Linked DNA regions of Homo sapiens. The protein of the gene in region 2 interacts with the protein of the main gene of each other region in a biochemical or structural test. Each region holds a gene or a part of one and is shown on either strand. Other genes may lie near its edges.

The links.
Region 1: the proteins of AREG (region 2) and S100A5 interact in far-western blotting, tested with the Homo sapiens proteins (one study listed by IntAct).

Annotation. Positions count from the first base shown.
Region 1 is NC_000001.11:153,538,007-153,542,279, forward strand, and holds the start of S100A5 (protein S100-A5), read right to left. Parts: upstream 2,929-4,273; 5' UTR 2,615-2,928; exon of another isoform or gene 2,200-2,614; coding exon of another isoform or gene 2,186-2,199; coding exon 2,048-2,185; intron 1-2,047. UniProt on the Homo sapiens protein: Binds calcium, zinc and copper. One subunit can simultaneously bind 2 calcium ions or 2 copper ions plus 1 zinc ion. Calcium and copper ions compete for the same binding sites.
Region 2 is NC_000004.12:74,451,571-74,455,386, forward strand, and holds the end of AREG (amphiregulin preproprotein), read left to right. Parts: intron 1-973; coding exon 974-1,067; 3' UTR 1,068-1,085; intron 1,086-3,188; 3' UTR 3,189-3,435; downstream 3,436-3,816.

The DNA.
Region 1 (4,273 bases), on a different chromosome or scaffold from region 2:
TTGCACTCCAGCCTGGGCAACAAGAATGAAACTCCTTCTCAAAAAAAAAAAAAGAACACCTTGCTGATTATGTGGCATTGAGCATTATCCAAGTCTCTGAGTGACTCTCTCCCCATTCTAAGGACTAGGTGAGAATAACCCCGGACAAAATGTCTCTCAATGAGAGCAGTGCACTGGGGCTGTGAAGCCACTGCATCCCTCCCCTGCTAGGAGAGCTGTGCAAGAGGCCTGCCTGGAGCCTGGTTGTGCACTGTTGTTCAGTCCCCTGATGTCCCAGCCTGGCTCCATTAGGACGATGGAGTCAGGGTCCTTTGGGTGGAACAGGAAGAAAATATAGACAAGCAGATCCTGATGTCTCCTCATCATTGCCGTCAGCTACAGGTTTTCACAGGAGACATTGGGACTTACAAAGGCGGAAACTGCTTGTCTGTCACGTGATCCTAGTCCCCAGCCTGGGCTCCTGTTATTGCCAGGCCCTCCTCTGGGCGTCTCTCCTTCTGTAATTAATCCCTGCTGGACCTGTGGCCCCTCCCTCTGCCCTCATTAACCTCCAGGATGCAGGCAGCCTGGCAGAAGGCCAGAGATCAGGCCTGGGGACGCCCATACCTGCTTCTGTCCCCTGCCCATGTGGCACACTGTGGACCTTCTTTCTGGGAGGGCCTACCAGGGCTCAAGGTGTGATAGATGGAGAGGCACCCAGGCTAAATTTTAAAGGAAACAGGGAGGATGATTCACAGGCCTGGCCCAGAACTCCAGCTCAGCCTCCCACTAGCGGATTGTCCTTAGGCAAGTTATTTGATGTATTTGAGCATTGATTTTTTTTAACTATAAAAATAATAAGACTAGGCACAGTGGCTCATGCCTGTAATTTCAGCACTTTGGGAGGCTGAGGCGATAGGATCATTTGAGGCCAGGAGTTCAAGAACAGCCTGGGTAAAATAGTGAGACCCCATCTCTACAAAAAATTTTAAAAATTATCTAAGCGTGGTGGTATTTGCTTGTAGTCCTAGCTTCTCAGGAGGCTGAGGTAAGAGGATCACTTGAGCCTGAAAGTTCAAGGCTACAGTGAGCCATGATCGCACCACTGCACTCTAACCTGGGTGACAGAGTGAGACTCTGTCTCAAAAATATTTATCCTTGGCCAGGCGCAGTGGCTCACGCCTGTAATCCCAACACTTTGGGAGTCCGAGGCAGATGGATCACGAGGTCAGGTGTTCGAGACCAGCCTGACCAACATGGTGAAACCCCCATCTCTACTAAAAATACAAAAATTAGCTGGGCGTGATGGTGCGTGCCTGTAATCCCAGCTACTGAAGAGGCTGAGGCAGGAGAATCGCTTGAACCTGAGAGGCGGAGGTTGCAGTGAGCCAAGATCATGTCACTGCATTCCAGCCTGGGTGACAGAGCGAGACTCTCTCAAAAAAAAAAAAAAAAAAAAAAAAAAATATATATATATATATATATATATATTTATTTATTTATTTATCCTCGGGGATATTGTATTATAATAACCTCATGGGCCTTCCCCTCTGTCAGTCACCTCCCTCCCACCACCTCCATCTGGTGAGAACCAGTTCTGTCTCCTCACTACCCTATGTTTACAAGTTAACCTTTCAGTTTGAGTGCCAGCACCATCAGAGAGCCCTGGCCATGCTGTGCACACAGAGAAGAATCAGGCAGAGTCCCTACACTTGAGTTGTACACAGCTGGACCTGGACACCCTGCATCCCTTCACCACCCATGACCCCTAGCACAGGTTCTGCCACTGCTGGGAGAGCCTGGCCCCACCATCGAAGGCTCCTCAATCTCCTTCTCTAAACCCTCCAGACTCAGCCCTTCCTCCTTCTCAGTGAGACCCTGACCCATTCTCCTTCACAGAGGGCTAGAGTTTTGCTGGCCCGAAATCCCCACCATCTTCCTTTGTCTCTGTCTGTAGCCCTTGGCCACCCTGCCCCTGGCTTAGGCTGGAGGATCCTGAGGGTAGGTATGTGTCCCCCAGAGGGAGTACTCAGACTTTGGGGTGGAGGATGAGGGAACAATCACCTACCTCCCCAAGACACAGCTCTTTCTTGATCAGCTCCTTGAGTTCCTTCCTACTCAGGGTCAGTTTGCTACCCTCTCTCCCCGAATATTTGTGAAACGTGGTCACCATAGTGGTCAGGGCCTTCTCCAGAGGAGTCTCCATCACAGTGTGCAGCTCTGTAGAGGGAGAGGGGAAGATCCCATTCCTCAGGAAGTCACCACCAGCAGCACTAGCCTACCTCTGAGGCCCCTCCCTCAAAGAACAAGAGACTGGAACCCAGGATGAGACTGAAATCCACTAACAAGAGCGCCCATCTATATCAGTACAGGTTACAATGAGACCCACAACAAACTCTGGAGCTGCTGGTACAAGGAGAACAGCAAGACCCCAAAGGAGACCACAGACTCTCCTGCTGGGGAGTTGTTGAAAAGTAGGCCTGAGGCAGAAAGATGAGAAGACGACCTCCTCAAAAGGCCCTGGTGGCAGATGGTGGAGCAGATCAAGGGTCACGATTTTCTCTCTGCTTCTTCCAGCTTAGGAACTGGTTTTCCACAGGCAGTTCACCAGCCTTTCCCCCAGTGCCTGAATCACCTGATATCGAGGAGTGTCCCATTATTAAAGTCGGGGACAGGGCAAAGAGAGAGTCCAGGGCTGAGAGGGGGCTGGGCTGGAACTGGGTGATGGGGTCTCAACAAGGAGCAGCAGGGAGGTGAGCTGAGCTGGCCCAGCTGGTCTCCAGACTCTGGCCCAGAGCAGTGCACACAGAGACGGGTCAGCGGGCAGGGAGGGCAGGGGGCCTCTTGAAATCTCCAGGATCATTCCAAAACCTGGATCCAGAGGCTACGCTTGAATAAGGGCCTGGATTCCAATAGCACAGCCACCCTCAGCCAAGGGAAGAGACAGATGGAGCTCAAGTGACTCAGACTCAAAAACCACTTCCCCCTCAGGGAGGAAGGAGGCAACACCCACGGAACTTGAAGGCTGCAGGTTAAATCTGTGGAGAGTCTTCACCTCCAGCCCAAAGCCCTCCCTGCCATTCTTGAACCAGACCCATCATTCCTCTCCCACCACAAAAACCTCAGCCTCTCCCACCTCAAGGAGACTCAGCTGGGACCACAGTTGAAGGCAAGGGACTCTGTGCACCTGCAGGAGCATCCTGGCTAGTCCAGACCCCCACCTCCACCCCAGAGCCATTTCTCAAGAAATTCCAAAGGCTCTGCCCTCTTCTCCCTGAGCGCATGCCCGCTTGTGGGGCCAGGCCTCCTTGGTGGAGGTCACCACCACTTGTCACCCTCATCATCCAGCGTGACCCACCAGATATCAGATGAACAGAGACATAGGAAGGAAGGACTTACCACTGTGGGAGTGAGCCCAGAGAATCCAAGCAGCAGGCATAGCCTCCCTCTCACTGCCTTCTGCCTTTATTTCCCTGATCTCTGTCCCTAGGAATCCAGGGGAGAGAAAGGGCCCATGAGAAGTTGTTGGGGACTTGAGGATGCCCACGTCAGAGCCTCCCGGGATGGAGCTGGGGAGAAACCCCTTCTGCCAATCTCACCTTCCTTGTTTACAAACAAGGGCTGGGGACACACTGAGTTCCCATAGCACACACGTCCCCAATCCCAGAAACTTTACTCTTCTGACCAAAAATCAGAACTCAAAATCTGAAATCTGATGGAACAATAAGCCGAAGAAGGGAAACCAGGCTGTCCTGGAAAGAAAACCTCAGAAGTGTGGGACAAACACAGGGCACCATCTCCCCGTGTCCTAGGAAGCTCTCCACATCGGGCCCCTCCCACCCATCCTGCCACCCACTCCAGGAGTAGAGAAGACAGCCCTTGAGATGGGGATCAGTGGAGGAAGATATTTTCTGCGAAGGATATGGTCAAGGTCATGAGCTAATATGGGCCCAGAGGTTTTTAAAGGGCTTTTAAATGAACGATTTCTTCTAGGCCTCACTGCTCTTCACAGGAAAGGCTCGTCGGAGACTCTTGGCATGGAGGACTGAGAATCAGGAATAGGGAAGGTGTCCAGCGAAGGGCTAAGGCCCAGCACTGGGGTAGAGGTTGTGGATTGGGGAGGGGGGTTCAGGTTCAGGCTGCAGTCAAGGAGGAAGTAGGGGCCAGGGAGAGTTTCCTGTATCCCAGGAGACACTCAGACATCGTTCTACCACAGTAGAACAACATACTTCTACCACCAGTCCAAGAACAGACCTGGGCTCAGGGTGTAGTACCTATCACTGCTGCAGTCCCA
Region 2 (3,816 bases):
TGATATGTAGCTTAAATTTATTTTGCACACACTAGAATTTGTCCTGGTTTTCTAGTACCTCAAGGCAGATATGCAAAGGTGTTTAGGAGACATACTCTCAGACAAACCATTATTATTTTAAAGGATAGAACAAAACAATCGCTAGTTAAGGAAGATGTTTTGTAATAATTAAACTTGTAATTATTTGACTTGAAATATTTAATCATTTTTTGGGAAAGAATGGATAGATTTTGTTAATGTTAGCACTCTTAAAATTAAGCAGTGGCTTTTTTCCCCGTGTCTCCCATATTCTCCTTGTGTTTGAAACATAAAACAAACACTAAACCTAAGCAAAAGTTGCTGGGTTTGTTTTCATAATTGAGGTGAGTTTTTCCCTCAACTATTACAATAAAAGAAAACTTTTTATGATTTTAATGATAATGTTTTGTGGTGGGTTAAAGACCTCCTAACAACAGGGGGTTTTTATACAACAACAAGAAGTTTTTAAATAATTGAGTTTTTAAAGTGGAAAGCAGCAGTAAATTAAACTAGAAGGATATATTTTATACCTAGAAATAAATAAAGCTCAACTTGTTTTGTAAGCCTGTTTCAAAAATATTTAATCATTTAATTTGTGCAAGTATAGAGTTCTCCTATGGCAAAACTATACCATCATCTTCTCCAATTGTGCATGGCAGCTGTACTAAGTTCTGCAAAAACAAGACATATGGATGTGTTTCATACCTTCTCAGAATTGGTATATCAAGACACATTTAAATATAAGCCCTCTGGAAATGGATTTATATACAGTCAACATAAATACCCCCTTAGAAATTGGTAATATTTTATAGCCAGGTTTAGGTTTAGTGTCAAGTATAGTGATTGCTGGTCTATCACTACTCATGAAGTGGAACCCCCTCTACTCATAAAAACCCCAATCAAACATATAGATGAATAGAACCTTGATAACATTAGAATGCCTTGTTCTCTGAAGGCTTAGAAGACAATACGTCAGGAAATATGAAGGAGAAGCTGAGGAACGAAAGAAACTTCGACAAGAGAATGGAAATGTACATGCTATAGCATAACTGAAGATAAAATTACAGGTTTGAGTTTTAAAATATATCTTTAGATCATATCCTATAATTTTGAAAAATTTAACACTATATAATCTCAAGAAAAATATGGAATGTGTTCTTAATTATATATACACTATGAACAATGGCTATGTTAAAGTATTATTCTTTGAGTATAAGATGGAATTCAATGTTGAGAATAGACTACGTGTTTAATAAGTATTATTAGGGATATAAATATAAGAGACACTGGTCCAGTTCTCAAAGAAGTTATTGTTTAGTAGATAGGAAAAAAATGTAAGAAACCAGAATACTAGGGATGTAAAATAAATGTCATGAGAAAGGAACCAATGGAGTATGAGAAGTTTCCAGTGAAAAACAGAAAGAATCCAGTAGAATTTATTTAGGGAAGAGGAAAAGATGTGTTCGGGGTGGCCTTGGAAGTGAACGTTGAAGGACTAGTGAGATTGGTTCAAGAAACTGTGAAGGGAAAGAAAGGGTTATACTGAGAAATGGAAGAGATAATTTTAGAAACTTGTGAAAAATGGCTTAATCTAAATGAGTGTTAGGGGAGATACAGTTGTGATGATAGGTTGAGCTCACATGGTGGAGAGCCACAGTTGCGGGTGCTTGCACTGATAATGTGAGGGCATGGAGACAGACAATAGGTTGAATGCTCTTTTTTTACAAAAGGAAGTAGAAAGGGAGGGGGATGTAAATTTGATAAATAGGTTGGTGAAAACTTATATTTTCTTGTAAAGAGAGAGAACTGAGCATGTTGTAGGTATAAGGTAAAAAGGCGTGAAGAGGAATATTTCGTTGATAATGAAAGTGAGCAGCTAGGGAAGAAAACTCCCAGAGGAAGAGGGAGGCAAGGAAATCAAGAACACACTTAAAGTTTGTCAGAAGAAGGAACTTTATTTCCTTAAACATTCAAGAAAGATGATGTCATTTCAGTTATTGATTGTCTAACTTCAGTAGGTTTAAGAGTTACTTGAGGGCTGGGCACAGTGGCTCAGGCCTGTAATCCCAGCACTTTGGGAGGCTGAGGTGGGCGGATCACCTGAGGTCAGGAGTGCAAGACCAGCCTGGCCAACATGGTGAAACCTTTTCTAAATATACAAAATTTTCTAAAAATACAAAAAATTAGCTGGGTGTGGTGGTGAATGTCTATAGTCCCAGCTACTTGAGAGGCTGAGGCAGTAGAATTGCTTGAACTGCAAGGCAGAGGTTGCAGTAAGCCAAGATCGCGCCATTGCACTCCAACCTGGGCAACAAGAGCGAAACTCCATCTTAAAAAAAAAAAAAAAAAAGAATTACTTGAGATGCTTGTTGAATATGCATATTCCTAAGCCCAGCCCTAAATCTACTGAATCAGAATTCTATTTTTAATGTACACTCCAGATGGTTCTGATACTTGAACAACGCTATATTTAGCATTGGTTAAGTACAGATATTTTGTTTTTAGCCTATTGCAGAATTAGCTCAATAATTCATAAAATGGGTAATTATTCATACCAATGCTAAACTCAGTATTTATTACATCAAAATTTTTAATGTATTGGCTAATTTTGGTAAAGCTAAGACCACCAGTGTGAATAAGGATGGATTTTTGGTTATTTGCCACTGAGATTTTTTAGCATAGATCCCAGAATTATTTTAGGAAAAAGAATATGCTGTGCTAGCACATAGTGGGTGCCTATTAACTGGTAGTTACTATTATTATGCCCTTGGTACTAATTTTCCTAAATTAACTATATATCATAAATATGCTGAGACAGTTAATCTTTGATTTTAATTATGTCCACTGCATAGATTTGGTTAGGAAAACTATTTCTCATGACTGCTGTTGCATTTTTATTAAGCAGAATTTGATGCAACAGATTTGAGCATATGTGGACTTCTACTGAACTAGGTGTATAATCAAAGCAAGTGTGAAAGAGGAACTCAAGCCGAAGTAAGAGTTGGTCTCTGAAAAATCTTAGCATTTCTCAAACGATGTACTAGAAAACAACTGACAGAAATTCTGATTCCTGATTATGCTTTAAAGTTTCTTAAAGCTCTGCTGGAATTGAGCTTATCTGTAACATTTTGTTTTATTTTATTATTTTATTTTATTTTATTTTCTCACAGGATATCACATTGGAGTCACTGCCAAGTCATAGCCATAAATGATGAGTCGGTCCTCTTTCCAGTGGATCATAAGACAATGGACCCTTTTTGTTATGATGGTTTTAAACTTTCAATTGTCACTTTTTATGCTATTTCTGTATATAAAGGTGCACGAAGGTAAAAAGTATTTTTTCAAGTTGTAAATAATTTATTTAATATTTAATGGAAGTGTATTTATTTTACAGCTCATTAAACTTTTTTAACCAAACAGATTGAGAGTTTGAATATTAGTTCTGATATTGCAAGACTCCAGTGTACTTTTCTCCTAACAGTTGGTTGATCATTTAAAAAGGCTTTTCTCTCTCTTTTTACTGTCTTTATGTTGATTTTTAAAACTCATTTTTTATTAGATGACATTCTTCATGGGAGAATTATAATCTAGAGTCACATAGTTCTCCCACAAACATGAGTGTTTATAATAATAATCCCAAATTGGTCTTACTTATCCAATGTAGAACTTATACCAAGTGCTGTTAATTATAAAAGCATCTAGAATCAAGATAAGGTGCTACCTCTCTGTTACAGTGCACCTAGATTATTATAAAAGAAAGCAAACTCACTGCCCATCACTATGACCATCATAGACAAT